Regions from separate parts of the Homo sapiens genome. Here region 1 is linked to region 2. Evidence: fine-mapped expression QTL. A gene starts in region 2. The other region holds a variant in brackets. All regions are shown on one strand. Distances are from middle to middle. Region 1 has its middle 100 kb from the start of QPCT. Region 2 holds the start of CEBPZ (CCAAT enhancer binding protein zeta).

Region 1 (8,537 bases), 210 kb before region 2:
CTATGCTTTCAAACTCCCACACACACTCCATCCTCCGCCAAAATACATAAACCTCTTTGAATTACACTCCTTCTCTTATAGGAGCAATTGACTACAGTTGGATGTGATATGCCTTTGTTTGTTTTAATTTACGGATAACCAGGAATGCTACCCTGCCTCTTTTTTTCAAACACCCACCATCCCATCAGAGGTCCTCTTCTGGGGTCTTAGTTTTCTGGTAATTTTTTTTTTTTTTTTTTTTACTAAGAATAGTTGTGGTTAGAGGCAGCTCCAAGCACAGCCCCCAGTCGTAAGGCTCATTAAGAACATTCTCCAACGTTCAGACTACAGCAGTAAATCACCAGCTCCAAGAAGGGGAGGCAGGGCGTGGATGGCAACTAGAGATCCTTCAGCTGGCGTCCAGGAAGGAAGGCTGCCTGGGTCTCATTCCAGGATGACAGCCCTTATAAAGGTGAAAGGTTTGAGGGATATAAGAAGGAAAATACTGAGACCTATAAACACACTTTTCATCTCTCAGCCAACACCTGTTATTTTGCAAACTTTGTAAGCGGTCTAAGGAAAGAACCAGCTCTGCTCAAAGATTTCTCAGAAAAGCATTTCAGCTTAGCATTTGTTACTTAAAATCCCCAAGAACGACTTCTGTCACACCCACCTCCCATTAGAAGGTAGCTTTTGACTGAAGTAACCCCAAGAAGGACAAGTTACAGGCTAACATCTCAACCCTAAATACAAAACGGAACCACTTTTGTTTTTCCTGACTTCAGTATCAATAGAAGTCTATACTTCCAGGACTGGCATTTTCCAAAGTTGTTAATATACAGATACCCAAAATCAAGAGAATGAGAGTGTGTGAGTTTGGGGAAAGTTGACAGATTCCTTCTCTTGGTCAGAGTGCATATTAGCATGCTAAAGTTTCTGAGAAGTCCTGCATTGAAGAAACAGGTTTATGTAAAATACAGCATTTTCCAAATTTGCTTTACCACAGAACCCTTTTTTTGTTCCTAACGCCTATTAATATTCTGCAGAAAACATTGCCCCCAGAAAAGAAAAGCCTGCATTTGGCCATTTCGATTTTGTTTGGTTTGAAGATAAAGGCAAATTTGCCTCCAAAGAAAATCTTCTCAGTGCATGAGTCCTCACTAGAGTGATGCTGACATTTCCGTGAACCCCAGGCCCTGGATCAGGAACAAGTGTTGGTTACTCTCAATGACTCTCCTTGCCCCCACCTCCCACCTTCTACCACCTCTCAGTTCTCTTCTGCCACATCTCCCCAGTGAAGACCAGCTGATAGCTTCACAGAGCCCATGTGGCACAGAGTAAAACAATTTAAATGGATACCAGCCAAAGAAATCTGTGAAGCAGATGATAATGTCAAATATACATTCAGAGCATTTTTATGTGGTTCTTAAATGGAAAGAAGGATTTCTCTTCCTTCAATCCTTCCGTTCATAATTTTTAACAAATGGGCTTCTTGGAATATGCAAATTTAGGGATGGAAGGAAAAGATCCATATATGGAACTCAAGTTTTAATTAAAGAGAGCATCCACAAAAATAAAAGCTCCAGGTCATTTGCAAGACCCAGCTGAGGAATGATTTTCTGTCTATCCATGGAAAACTATTCACAATGTATTGTTGCATGAAAAAGCAAGTTCCAAAACCATATACACAGAGTGATTCATTTTGTAAATGCAATTGACTCAATGTTTGTTGAAAGATAAATATGCATTAAAAGGAGACTCTAAGAATTTATATCAAATTGACAGTGATGATCTCTGAGCGAAAGTGTTTTCTTTTCTCATATAAAATGACATTTTATATTTTCTCATATAAAAGTTAAAATGAAAATTTTAACTTTTCTCATATAAAATGATATTTTACAATAAAAAATAATATTTTGGAAATGTTCTAGTCTACCACTTGTGTTATCTGCAGAGAAATATCCAAGGATGGAGGAAGCACTTTTCCTCATGAAGAGGAAGGATCATGAGGCCAGACTGTGTGGACAGTGAGTAGCCAAGAGCAGGACAACGTCCTCCACAGCACTTAGTGCAGGCTTTTGCACACAGCAGGCATCAAGCACTTGCCATAAGACAAGCTAAACTATAAGGTAACAGCAGCAAGTCATGATTCTAAATACTGGGGACAACCAGTACATTCAAAGTGAGAGTAGCCAATAAGTATAGAGAGGTTACAAATAAGATCCCAGATCCAAATAGTCAATACAAAACCACCCCCAGCCCTGACATCCTCCTCCACCCATACCCACACACCTACTTATTAGCTGGAAGTCCAGTACCTTTTTGAATTTCCTTTTCCCAACCAGTTCAAAGAATTTTCAGGGCTGTAACCCAAATGTCCACCAATTGGTGGGTCTTTGGATCAATTCCCCTAGAAGTCATAAAGAAAGGTGGAGATTGTCACATATACGATATGGTCTCCACCTGCCTTCTGCCTCCCTGCCCTGTTGACCATTTTTACTCCATCACCCACAGGCCACTAACCCCTCCAGGCCAAGTAGTCTCCTCTAAGCTATGTAGCTCGGCTGCTCTCCATCTCTAGCCAGTTGGACAACACCTGCTGCCTCTCATCAGAACTCTTGCAGAAGAGCCTGCCACAGCAGAGCTGCTGAACCCCTCTGGTTCTCTCCTCTGTACAAAGCCCCGTTCCCCATAGAGTGGATAGAGTGGGCAGGCATTGCAGAGCTGGGAAGGGGGCCTGGTGGTTGTGCAAGGGGATTTGGGGACTAAAGGCCATGTTGGGTTGATAAGCACAGCCTCACGTCCTATCTGAACTCTAATATTTAGCCCCTGCTGCTCAGTTCGGCTCAACCTGCCAAAATTCTTCCTCACAAAAAGAGATTTTTTTTCTAAATAAATGTTTTGTCTCTGTCTTCATTCTGGCTTCCTTTAGACCCACCCACCACCCCCCCACCCCCCCGCCACCGCCCGCCGCCCCGCAAGTACCTCAGAAAGTGCAGTACATATTAAAATTACAAAAATGGACAGAGTTCTCTTGTTTTTCCCACAAGACTCTTGGGCTCCAAGCAAAGCAGAAAATTTGGTTAAGTCTCATTCCCTGATAGTTGAGATGTTAAGAAAAATTCAGTTGCAAAAAAAAAACCCCAAAATAATCCGATTTTAAAATGAGCAAATGATCTGAATAGACATTTCTCAAAAGAAGACATACGAATACCCAACAGATATATATGAGCAAATGCTCAACATCACTACTCACAGGAGAAGGCAAATCAAAACCACAATGAGATGTCATCTCATTGCAGTTAAAATAGCTATTAAGAAAAAGACAGAAAATAACAAGTGCTGGCAAGGATGTAGAGAAAGGGAATGCTCGTACATGATTGGTGGGATTGCAAATTAGCACAGCCATTACGGAACATGGTACAAAGGTTCCTCAAGAAATTAAAAACAGGTCTACCATATTTTCCAGCCATCCCACTGCCAGGTATCTATCCAAAAGAAAGGAGATCAAGATATGGAAGACATATCTGCCTTCTATGTTTATTGCAGCACTATTCACAATAGCTAAGAAACAAAACCAACCTGTGTCCATCAATGAATAAATGGATAAATAAAACATGGTATATGTATACAATTGAATATTATTCAGCCACCTAAAAAAGAATGAACTCCTGTCATTTGCAATAACATGGATAGAACTGAAGGTCATTATGTTAAGTAAAATAAGGCAGGCACAGAAAGACAAATATCAGGTGTTTTCACTCATACGTTAAAGCTAAAAAAAAGTTGATCTCATGGAGGTAGGGAGTAGAATGATAAATACCAGGGGCTGGGAAGGGTAGGAGAGAGGGTGAGATGAAAACAGGTTAGTTAATAGGTACAAAAATACAATTAAATAAAAGGAATATGTTCTAGAGCTCGATAGCACAGTAGGGTGACTATTATTGTGTATTTTGAAATAGCTAGAAGATTTGGAGTGTCCCTAGCACAAAGAAATAGTAAATGTTCGAGGTGACAAATATCCTAATCACCCTGACTTGGTCATTACACATGGTATATATGTATCAAAATATCATATGTACCCCCATAAATATGTATAATTAGTATGTATCAATTTATAAATTACTTCTGAAAAAAAAGTGCCTCCCCCAGCCCCTGCACTCTGCCAGCTTCCTAGGACAGAAGACTGATCAGCCTCAAACACAGAGACTCTTTAAGGAGGG[C/T]GTTGCTAATTCCAACCCAGTCTCAGCTCTGACATGGCCATAACACCTGCCACACGTGTGACGGTGCAAAGTAAGATTTTTACTCAAAATCCCCATTCAGAGCTGGAAGAAGCCTTAGTCATCTCCTCTAACCTCCTCATGTTACAGATGAGGATGAACAGGCTCAGGATCATGTCAGCCAGGTAACAGCCAAACTTAGGCTGGACTCTAAGCCTCCTGGCTTCTAATTCAGTCCAGAGGAATACCAAGCCCCTAGTACAGGAAAACAACAATGGTTATAGCATAGTATACATTATTAGAAACATTTAACCAACTCAGATTCAAGCTCTATACTAGTTTGTCATTTTCTTTTACAAATGTCATTCCCTTCATCCTTGATATTATTCTGATTGTACAGATAAATAAATTGAGGCTCAGAAAAGTAACCTTTCCCAAATCATGCAGTTTGGACACAGTACAGCCAGAATTCCAGCTGAAGCCGGTATGAACCCAAAGCCCCTGATTTTTTTTTCACTACATTAAACTGATTTCATAAAAACTGAAGAAGAGTGGACGAAAGCTTGTCTATTTAAGCATAAAGTGGCAATTTATCAAATGGATTTACAAAAAAAATAAAACTGCCTAGCTGTGTTGAATGACCTGAATTCTCACATTAAAAACAGGTTCCAAATCAATGTTCTGTTTCAAAGCATTTTTTCTCTACTGTGATCTAGTTATTGATTACAAAGAAGAATGACAGAAGACAGCTACTATGAGGAAAAACAATATTATTATTCTAATCAAGTAACTTTGGGCGGGAAATAGTACAATGCCTATGTGTTGCCAGGGCATTGCAAACATCAAATAGTAACTCATTTAAAAAACACATAAAATGCCTCTTTAATAAATGGATAATCTCCTTTAATTCCTGAAAATACCTAGAATGTAAGAATGCACAAATTCATTAAAATTTTATAAGTTTAGAGCAAAGAAAGATTGCCATATTTTTGCAAAATTCTCTTGTACGTACATACTCATACTTTTTCAATCTGCCAGATGTAGGCTAAAAAACTGGAAAAAAAGCATAACACTTCCCAAGAGTTTTTGGCCAAGAAACACATGAGTAGATTTGGGGGTGTGTATGTGTGTGTAGGGGTTGTATGTGTCATGCCATACATGAATATATAAAGATTTTGTTCCCACCACACCAGTTGGTTAAAATAAATATGATTCATTTGAGTGGGTTCATGTCAATGTTGTTCTGAATGAAAACAAAACAAAATCAGCAAAACTACAAAACAGTAGGCACACCTTCTGTTCCAGAAAGCAATTGAATCTTCATCTAGGGTTTCTCTCCAGCCTGGTTCACAGACTCAGTGAAATATACACCTCAGCGAGAGAGATACAGAAAGGGACCATGTGGACTCCATCTATGTTCTGCTTGCTATCACAGTCTTTCCTTTTTCTTTCCTAGGAGCATTTTCTAAGTAAATTAGTGATAGATTTTAAATATAAACAGTTTATGCAATACAGAAGAAAAAACTGTTATCATTCAGAGATAATCACAATGAATACTTGGTTCTACATACTTTCTATTTTGAATATACGAAGTATAGTTTTGGTTCTGTTTTATCACTTAATATATCTTGTATGTTTTCCTCACATTTAGATATATTTTTTGAAACATGATTTTTAATGGTAGCATAAAGTATTATAACATGTGTACTCAATAATTTATTAAGTCACTTTTCTGTTTAATATTTAGATTATTTGCAATGTTTTGGCATTATAAATATGAAAGATGTATTAAATATGTGGCACATATATTTTTGTCTGCATATGGGTTGATTTCCTTAGAATTAATGTTAAAAAGTACTTATCAAAAGTAGAATTATTGAGTCAATTCCATTTTTAAATTTTTCTTTTTTACTCAACTACTTTAAAAACATTCAAACAACATAGAAAAATATAGAATAAAATGAAAAATCCCTCCTGCCTACCTAATCCTATTCTTAGTCCTATCACTATTGCAGTCTTAAGTTCATTCCATTACTTATTCTTTCCATTAGACTTTTTTTATTTTGACAATCATATTTTTTATTTTCAAAAACCCTTCTGTACTCTGAGTTACTTTTTTATAGCTGCCAATTCTTATTTTATGAATAGATTCTTTGAATGTTGTTGTTTATATCCAAAGACAGAAAATAAACTTCTTTTGTAACCTTTTTGTTCTCAATATTCTCTTTCTGTGGTCCAGTGATCTGTTCATTCAGCTTGATCCTTCTCTTTCTAGCTATTGGTTTTCTACATGGCATCTGAGATTCTTAAAATTCCCACTTATCTCTATGAATGAAGACCTGGGAAGATTTATTCCCACTTATCTCTGTGAATGAAGACCTGGGAAGCTTTAAGAATTCCCATTTATCTCTATGAATGAAGACCTGGGAAGCTTTATTTAGTTAGCTTTGCAGTTGCAAAGGTCCTTCCTCACTCCCACCCCAAATGGTGTGAATTGAGGGGGGCTGACAGTGTGCTCTCTAGAAGCTTCCACTTCCTAACCAGAAACACTGCTGAGGCAGCGGTTGACCGTCTAGTGTGCAAATCTTGGTGTCTTCACCTGGACAATCACCCACCCCTCATCTCTGTGACCTGTGGCTCAGTGTGAGAGGGTTTATGAACGTAACTGGCCCCTGTTCAGTACCAATGGCCCATCTATTGTCACATGACCCTTTCTGTTCTTTGTTCCCTTGAAATTTCTCAGAATCTGCTCTTATCTACCTAGCTGTTTTCTCTGTGTGTTTTTTCAACCCTTATCAAGTCAATCCCATTACTTTCCATCATCCAGGAAATTTCCCACCATTTCTGATATGTTGATGTTGCCCTTTCTTGTTTTCCATGAAAGTAGTGGGTCTAGTTTTGACAAATATATTTCCTTTTATTTCAAGGGACTTAGAAGAAGGCCAGAGGTGGTCAAATGTGCCTAAACCAACACATAGATCCAATGCACCACACCTTTTTTCTCTTGTAAGAATGTTATTTTACACTTGATTTTTACTCCCTATCAAAACCATCGTCATATTTCTTATTAAAGTTATTGTCTCAGAAAGGTATTGGATACAAGAATCAGAAAGCACTGATCCAAACTGACTGGAACAGTAAAGGGAATGCATTTACCCATGTACATGAAAATTTCAGAGGTCATATAAGCCTCAGGGCTGGCTCAAATAAGCTGTTCAACATTGATACCACAAACTGCCGTCTGCAGCGTCTTCTTCCTCTTAAGGTTTTATCTTGTGTTTGGAAGATGGCTACCAAGGGTTTCTGTAACTACATATTTTCTCCCTAATATCCAGCAGAAAGTGAGTGTCTTGTCAGGCAGGCTTTTTGCAATTTCAAGAAAATCTCTTTCCCAGAAACCCTTAGAAAATATCTCTCCACAGCTCATTGAACCAAAATGGGCCACATAAGTCAACCACTGTGGATAAAGGAAATAAATGTGCTGATTGGGCTTAAGCCAAAATAATTACTGGATTTAAAGTTGGTTGTAGTCTTCTGCTCAAGAAACAGAAGTATATATGGAATGGGAGGCTTGGAAAGTTCAGAGGGGCAAATTCTAAACACAAATCAGAGTCTACTACAAAAAAAGAAGGGAGGAATAAGCTAAAATAGCAAATGGTCAGCACAGTCCTGAAATAATATGAATGTCTACCAAAAAACAGCCATCTAGATGCTGTAGCTGCACATTTGGGTTACAGAGCTGAGAATCTGCTCTTCCCTAAGTGGTGGTTACACTTGCCCATTGCACAAAGTTTTTCACTTTTAAACCCTTTTCACAGTACATTACTAAGAGATCTCCCACCCCAAGAATTTTCAATAATCATTTTATGATTTTTATACTTTATGTTAAAGATTTTAAACTGAGACATCCGCAACGAGTATCCTAAATTGCAAAGTCTTAGGGCACAATCCTCCACAAGACTGCCCTCATTTAAGACACAAGTCTCAAGTTGGGGGATCCCCATGGCCACACTCATTTCAGACCAGCTGGCTACAATTTTGAGTATCTCCACAGACTCCTTCAGGTTTAAATAATTCACTAGGATGACACACTGAATTCAGGAAGTGCAATGTTTATAGTTTTATTATAGCAAAAGGAGACAAACTAGAACCAGCCAGAGGAAGAGATGTGGAGGGATAAGTGTAGGAAGTTTCTGTCATCCTCAAAGATGTGTTACTCTCCTGGCATCAAAGAGTTACAAAAACCAAAGAGTAATGCCGGCTGGGCATGGTGGCTCACACCTGCAATCCCAGCACTTTGGGAGGTTGAGGCAGGCAAATCACTTGAGCTCAGGAATT
Region 2 (8,000 bases):
GCAGAAGATCATGCCTTATTTATCTTCATATCCCAAGTTTTAGCACGATGCCTAACCTTCAAGAAACACTCAAGAATTGAGTTAAATATTTCTTATGCTTCTCAAGCTCCTATTCTACCACCTTACTACAGGTGACATGGGCCCCAGTCTCACTCCAGAATTAAAGAATGTTATAAAATACGAATTCCTCAGCTTCCCATCCCCACCTGGCCTCTAACCTAATCTGGGGACTCCAAGAATGAAATGCCTTCCCCTTCTCCTCTCATCCAAACCTAATCCCTCCGCCTGTGCTCTGGACCATTCCTCATACAACTCCCCTGAGTCCTTTTAGCTGTCCCCTTCTCTCTTCCAGCTTCAACTTTCCCCCTTCAGCATTCAAAATAAATCAAGTCACTCCCATTTTTGAGAACATTTTTTCAATCCACACATCTCTTCTTCTAGGCTTTCTAGTTCCGTTCATAAGGAAACATTATTGGGGTATTTACGCTTTTTTGTGTTATGAACCACTGTGGTAGCCCAGTGATGCCTATAGACCCCTTCACAGAGTGTTTTTAAATGCACAGAACCACAAAGAAATAACTGAAAAATGTGTATCAAATGTTCTAAAAAATGTGATATATACACTTCTTTACTAGTGTATTAAAAAAATATAATTAGGCCGCGCACAGTGGCTCACACCTGTAATCCCAACACTTTAGGAGGCTGAGACAGGCGGATCATATGAGGCCAGGAGTTCAAGACCAGCCTGGCCAACAAGGCAAAACCCGATCTCCATTGAAAATACAAAAAACCTAGCTGGGCATGGAAACATACACCTGTAATCCCAACTACTCGGGAGGCTGAGGCACAAGAATCCTTTGAACCTTGAAGGTGGAGGTTGCAGTGAGCCAAGATTGCACTACTGCACTCCAGCCTGGGTGACAGAATGAGACTCTATCTCAAAAAGCCAACAAACAAAAAAGCCCATAATCAAGCCAAAGACCCAATAATTAACAAAATTTTGAAGTAAGGATGAGCACGATGAAATCCTGAGATGCCTGTGATCACTGTATTGTGATAAGGAAATACCAATGATTTCCACAGATGACAAAGTCACAGGTATTGCTGATGCTACTAGTTGCTGCGTATGTTCATAATTGAAGAAATGCTAAATTTCAGTTGAAAGTTAGTGAAAATAAAGGTATAATATTTTTTCCATCCAGCTTCATGAAACCCCTGATTTCTATTAAAGGGTCCCTAGGTTAAGAGCCTCTACATTTTAGAGTTACCCCTACTCTCAATGCTGGGAAACCTTCCTTTCTCTCAGTATGTTCTCCCTGGTTCCTTGGCTTTAAATATGACCTATATGCTGATGACGAGCAAATGTATATATGCCTGCCCAGTCTTTCTTCTGAACACCAGGCTCACTTTTTTTTTTTTTTTTTTTGAGACAGAGTCTCGCTCTGTTGCCCAGGCTGGAGTGCAATGGCGAAATCTAGGCTCACTGCAACCTCTGCGTCCCGGGTTCAAGCGATTCTCCTGCCTCCTGACTAGCTGGGATTACAGGCACAAGCCACCACGCCCGGCTAATTTTTGTATTTTTAATAGAGACGGGGTTTCACCAAGTTGGTCAGGCTGGTCTCAAACTCCTGACCTCGTGATCCACCCGCCTTGGCCTCCCAAAGTGCTGGGATTACAGGCGTGAGCCGCCACGTCCGGCCCTGAACGCCAGACTCTTACAGCGAATTGCCTACTTTCTATCTCCACCTGCATGTCACTGCTAACAAAATATGTATAAAATGCAGCTCCTGGTGTAGGCCCTCTCCCTAGTACTCCTCCAAACCTGGTCCTGTCTGTCTTAATCTCAATAAAAGGTACCATCATCACCCAACTGCTCAAGCTAAAAGTACGAATCAGCCTTGATTCCTCCGTTCCATCACTCAATCCATCGGCAAATCCTGTCAGTCCCTTTCTAAATCACCCTCTTCTATTTCTAGTACCACCACACTAGTCTAAGCCACCTATCTTGCAGCCCTGCCTAACCGGCATCGAAAGAAAGATACCGGCCTTGGGTAAACCTCGACACTAGAGTCACACTACCATATCCAACAACAATGGCCAATCTAACCCCAGAATTCCACAGAGGTCATATTTCAACCCAGCAAAAGATGAAATATTCTAAAATAAAGGACTATAGGCTTTCACCAAATGGCTCTGTAGAACAGACAAGGAAACGTGGGTCAGAAAGCTGTGACTGTGCCTAATCCTAGAACAGTGAAGACGACCCAGACTGCATTCTCAACTGCACATGTGAGAAAACCCAGCACATGTCTCCAATGCCAGCTGAAGCCATTCCAACACAGACGACTTTCCAGGCAGTAATTCCTATTTCCAGCTGCCTGTTGGAGATTTCTACCTAAGAGTCCCACACACTTCAAATTCATATACCAGCCTGAACTCTCCATCCTTCCTCCCGTATTCCTTCTCCCAAAGCAATGAATCCACACCACCCACCATCAGCCAAGTAGGAAAGTCATCCTTCCCGCATCATAAATCCAATCAGCTACATTCTGTCTCCTAAACACCCTTGGACCGTGTCCTCTCCTCTTTACTGGCACTGCCTCTGACGTGAGCCAGCCCTGACCAACTGACAAATTATCTGTCCCCAGGTCCTCAGAAATGGCTCTTCCCCTGGCAGGCACCCCCACTGCCTGGGCTGAGAACCTTCGGGCTTCTCCCTCCTGGCTTGCACCTCGCAAATCGGCTAGAGAGGGCCTAGTCCTCGGGCTACCCGACCCATACCTTGGCTGGATTAGTCAACACCTCCTTCATGTACTCGGCCACAGTGATGGGACCAGTAGACTTTATTTTGTACATAAGATGCCGCAGCATCGGCGTCACCGGGTTTTCTGCAGGCTCATTCCCGGAGCTGAAGTATTTCCCTCTCCAAATAAAAGGAATGGCTGCGAAAAACACAAATTAAACAGACCCCATGATAAATCTGACCATTCACGAGCGCAAGCCGCCTGAGCGTTTTCAAAACAGCTTCGTGAACCCTTAACCTCGCCCCACCGCAGACCGCGGGCTACTGTGCTTAGCACGCCCACGGGGCGCAGAGACAGCACCCACTTGCCCACGACTACGCAGCCCTATTGCGTTTGTACCGGACCCGTTTCCAGCCCAGGGTACCTTCAAGGTGGAAGTGAGCCCCCGAGCCCTTGATCCCCCGGTACCCTCAACTGAAGAGCTGAGGAAGGCGCCCCACGCGGCTTCCACGGCAACCGGGCTTCGAGGGGACTGACGCTTACCTGCGCGCGCCACGGCACACAACGGCCCCAAACCTGACCTCAGCAGTACACTCATGCTGAAATTCGCAGGCTAGCTCGCTCCGCCAGGAGCTGGGGCTTAGACCATTTCCGGGAGAAGACACGCCCCGACAGGAATTACGCCACTGGCAGAGCGGAAATAGGCTGAGTTTCACGCGCGTATGCTTTGCCCGCCATGGCCGCAGTCAAGGAGCCTTTGGAGTTCCATGCCAAGCGGCCTTGGCGCCCCGAGGAGGCAGTAGAAGATCCGGACGAGGAGGATGAGGATAATACTAGTGAAGCCGAGAATGGGTTCTCCCTGGAGGAAGTGTTACGGCTCGGAGGCACCAAGGTAACGGCCGCGGGCTCCGGGGAACGGGATCAGGCGTGGAGAGTTCCGAAGGTGGCTAGGCTGACTGCCCCGCCGCTTCCGCGCTGCGTAGAGCGCGGGCGTCCAGGACCGAGATCCCAGCCTCTGAAGCATGTGTTCGGTGCGCTTCCCACGCCGGTTTCCACTGCTGTTTACAAAAGAAAAGTTTCGAATTGAACGTTGTATTCTCTGGCTATTCTTAGGATGTAGGCGATCTTCTGATTTTATTGACGTGGTATAACCATCACACCATCAGGTCGGAGAGTGGCTTTTCTTGGTCCTGACCTTGTGGTATGAGTGTTTTGAACACCAGTGGTATTGGAATTTTCATTTCTGTTCTCATAGAGTACATGCACGTGTCACTGTATGCCCCAGAAGCCCTCTTTTTTGGAGCATCCTAATTAAGGGAGAGAAACAGTAAACAAACTTTTAAACACATAGTACAGCAGACGCGGGGTAGTGCTATAAAAGAAAATAAAACAAGGAAGGACGATAAGGAGTGGGAGCGCGTTAGTATTAAATGAGATGATCGACAAACACATCACGGAAATGTTTGAGCAGAATCCTAAAGGACAGGAAGGAGTGAGCTGCCATTCCAGTCAGTTGGAACAGCAAATGCAAAGACAGGCAGAAGAGTGCCTAACCTATTCCATGAGCAGCCAAAATGCCAGTGTAGCAGAGGCAGAGTGAGTTAAGGGGAGAATAGTAAGAAAGGAGGGCCGAGGGGTCAGAGGGCAGGCTTTTGCTCTGAGTTTGATGCAAAACCACTGGAAGATTTTAAGCAGATAAGGAACAGAAATTAACTTTGTTTTTAATATTATTTTGTTTGGAGACTGGACTTTCAAGGTGGAGGAGTTAGTTAGAGATAGGCAGATTCACAGTTTGCTCTGTGCTTGTGTATATTTAAGTTTTGAATAGGTAATATATACACATGAAACACGTGGTGCAAACTTTAAAAGATACATAGTGAAGTCAAATTGTTTCCACTTTTATCTCAGCCATAACCATTGCCCTGATAGGAAGCAATTATTTTTACAACTGCATTTTATATCTTTCAGGGATACTATATACCTTTTCAAGCATATACATACTCATTTATGTGTATGAAATACGGGTGTATCTTTTTTACATAAATGGTACCATATATATACACCTATCTCTACATTTTGCTTTCTTTTCTGTCTTAGAAATCCTTCTATATCAGTGCATAACGTTCTGTGTCATTGCTATGGCTGCATAAATCATTTTGTCTGTCTTAATTTATCTAACCAGCCATTTATTGTGAATATTTAAATTATTGCCAGTCTTTCACTATTTTAAATAATACTACAGTTAATAACCTTAATCGTGTTTTTCCCCCACTTTTGTAAGTGTATATGTAGTATAAATTTGTAGAAATGAGCCAGGCACAGTGGCTCACACCCATAATCCCAGCACTTTGGGAGTCAGAGGTGGGAGGATACCTTGAGTCCAGGAGTTTGAGACCAGCCTGGGCAACATAAGGAGACCTCATCTCAAAAAAAAATTTTTTTTTTAAATAGCTGGGCGTGTAGTGCCAGCTACAGGCTGAGGTTGGAGGATCACTTCAGCCTGGGAGGTTGAGGCTGCAGTTCAGCCATGGTCATGCCACTGTACTCAAGCCTGGACAACAGAGCGAGACCATGTCTCAATCAGTTAGTTAATTTTTAGAAATGAAGCTGCTGGGCCAACAGATGTGTGCCTTGTATTAAATAGTTGTGATTGGAGTTGACAAATTGTCCTCCATGGAGGTTGTGTCAGTTTACACTCACATCAACCATGTATGAAAGTGCCGTTTCCGCCACCCCTTCCCCAGCATCACCTGTCATTGTATCTTGCTCATCTTGCAGTGTATCTTTGCTCATCTGATAAATTAAAAGATGGATGTATCATTGTGGTTTTAATGTGGATTTGTCTAAACCTCAGTGAGGTTGAACATCTTTTCATATTCTTAAAGAACCCTTTTTTTCTATGAACTGTTCATGTCCTTTGCACATTTTTCTTTTGGGTTGTCACTTACTGATGTGTAGAAACTTATATTAAGGGATTAAACCCAATTACTTTGATAGGAATTGCTTGTATTTTTTTTCCAGTTTATAATTTATATTTTTTTCCTATATCGAAATAAAAAGTGTGTGTGCGTGTGTGTGTGTGTAAAAGAAAGAGAGAGAAAGAGAAATTTACTTATCCTTTCCTTTGTGGACCCTGAGTTTTATGTCAAATTTGAAAGGATTTTTCCAGTTCCGAAATTATTTTTAAAATTATGTTGTGTTTCCTATTATTTTATGGTTTTATTTTTCACATTTGTAATGTATTTTTAACTTATGTTTTTAATGCAGCAAGATTACCTTATGCTGGCTACTTTGGATGAGAATGAGGAAGTGATAGATGGAGGCAAAAAAGGAGCAATCGATGACCTTCAGCAAGGTGAATTGGAAGCATTTATTCAAAATCTTAATTTGGCGAAGTATACAAAAGCTTCCTTAGTTGAAGAAGATGAACCAGCTGAAAAAGAAAATTCCAGCAAAAAAGAAGTAAAAATACCTAAAATAAATAATAAAAATACAGCAGAAAGTCAAAGGACATCAGTTAATAAGGTGAAAAATAAGAATAGGCCAGAACCACATTCTGATGAGAATGGCAGTACCACACCGAAAGTAAAGAAAGATAAACAGAACATCTTTGAATTTTTTGAGAGACAGACTTTGTTACTTAGGCCTGGAGGCAAATGGTATGATCTGGAGTACAGCAATGAATATTCTTTGAAACCCCAGCCTCAGGATGTTGTATCTAAGTACAAAACCCTTGCTCAGAAGCTGTATCAGCATGAAATCAACTTATTCAAAAGTAAGACGAATAGTCAAAAGGGAGCCTCTTCTACCTGGATGAAGGCAATTGTGTCATCGGGGACACTAGGTGACAGGATGGCAGCCATGATTCTTCTTATTCAGGATGATGCCGTTCACACACTTCAGTTTGTAGAAACTCTTGTGAACCTTGTTAAAAAGAAGGGCAGCAAACAGCAGTGCCTTATGGCCTTGGATACTTTCAAAGAGTTGCTTATCACAGACCTTTTGCCAGACAATCGGAAGCTGAGGATTTTCAGCCAGCGTCCTTTTGACAAACTGGAACAGTTGTCCAGTGGCAACAAGGACTCAAGAGATAGAAGACTGATATTATGGTATTTTGAACACCAGCTGAAACACTTAGTGGCTGAATTTGTGCAGGTCTTAGAAACTTTAAGTCATGATACATTAGTAACCACTAAAACTCGAGCCCTTACCGTGGCTCATGAGCTGCTTTGTAACAAGCCTGAGGAAGAAAAGGCTCTTCTTGTGCAAGTGGTAAATAAACTGGGAGATCCTCAGAACAGAATTGCCACAAAAGCATCCCATCTGTTAGAGACATTACTTTGTAAACATCCCAATATGAAAGGAGTTGTGTCTGGTGAAGTAGAAAGGCTACTCTTCCGCTCAAATATCAGCTCCAAAGCTCAATATTATGCAATTTGCTTTTTAAATCAAATGGCTCTGTCCCATGAAGAAAGTGAATTGGCTAACAAATTAATAACTGTTTACTTTTGCTTTTTTCGGACTTGTGTCAAAAAAAAAGATGTTGAATCAAAAATGCTTAGCGCCCTTTTAACAGGTGTGAATAGGGCATACCCTTATTCCCAGACTGGTGATGACAAAGTAAGGGAGCAGATTGACACACTGTTTAAAGTGTTGCATATTGTGAATTTTAATACCAGTGTCCAGGCTTTAATGTTGCTTTTCCAAGTAATGAATTCTCAGCAGACAATATCGGATCGATATTACACAGCATTATACAGGTAAGAACATACCCTTCCAATATGAGACATGAAATAATAACTTGATGTAGTACAGCACAAGCAGTGCCCTCTGTGGGGCAAGAAAAAGAGTTAGAAAATTTGGTTTTAGGCCCCCTCAGCAGCTTGCTACTCGCCACCTTCAAGTAAGTCACTTAATCTTTGTTTCCCTGATGGGCACAAATTATATTAGATGCTTTGAATACATTTTTCATTTTGAGAGGTTGTAAAATACAGAAAAATACCCAAAAGATTCATTCATATCTACCACCTAGTATTTCAGAATTAACATTTTGCTATATTTGTTTTAAATCTTTTGGGATATTAAAGAAATAAAATTGCAGATATAATTGCAGTTTCCGTCTTCCCATTCTCCTCAGTCCTCTATCTTTTCCCTGCTGTCTTTCACACAGTTGAATGCATTCACACAGTAACTCATTCAACAAGTATTTTCTGAGTGCCTGCAGTATGGTGCCATGCTCTAGGTGCACAGGAGGCA

The links. PIP is the estimated chance that this variant, and not a neighbour inherited with it, causes the effect.
Region 1: its variant is fine-mapped to the expression of CEBPZ in esophagus muscle (GTEx, PIP 0.98).

Annotation. Positions count from the first base shown.
Region 1 is chr2:37,441,676-37,450,212 of GRCh38, reverse strand. No RefSeq gene overlaps it. Among named protein-coding and RNA genes, the nearest start is that of QPCT, 100 kb to the right of the region's middle. The variant C/T (reference allele first, on the strand shown) is at 4,203.
Region 2 is chr2:37,227,048-37,235,047 of GRCh38, reverse strand. It overlaps CEBPZ (CCAAT enhancer binding protein zeta), which reads left to right and starts at 3,452. Exons shown (of 16, transcript NM_005760.3): 1 at 3,452-3,636; 2 at 6,012-7,504. The coding sequence starts at 3,481. NDUFAF7 (NADH:ubiquinone oxidoreductase complex assembly factor 7) reads right to left here and starts at 3,390. Exons shown (of 10, transcript NM_144736.5): 1 at 3,288-3,390; 2 at 2,782-2,942. The coding sequence starts at 3,342. RefSeq lists enhancers at 3,501-3,950, 2,908-4,107.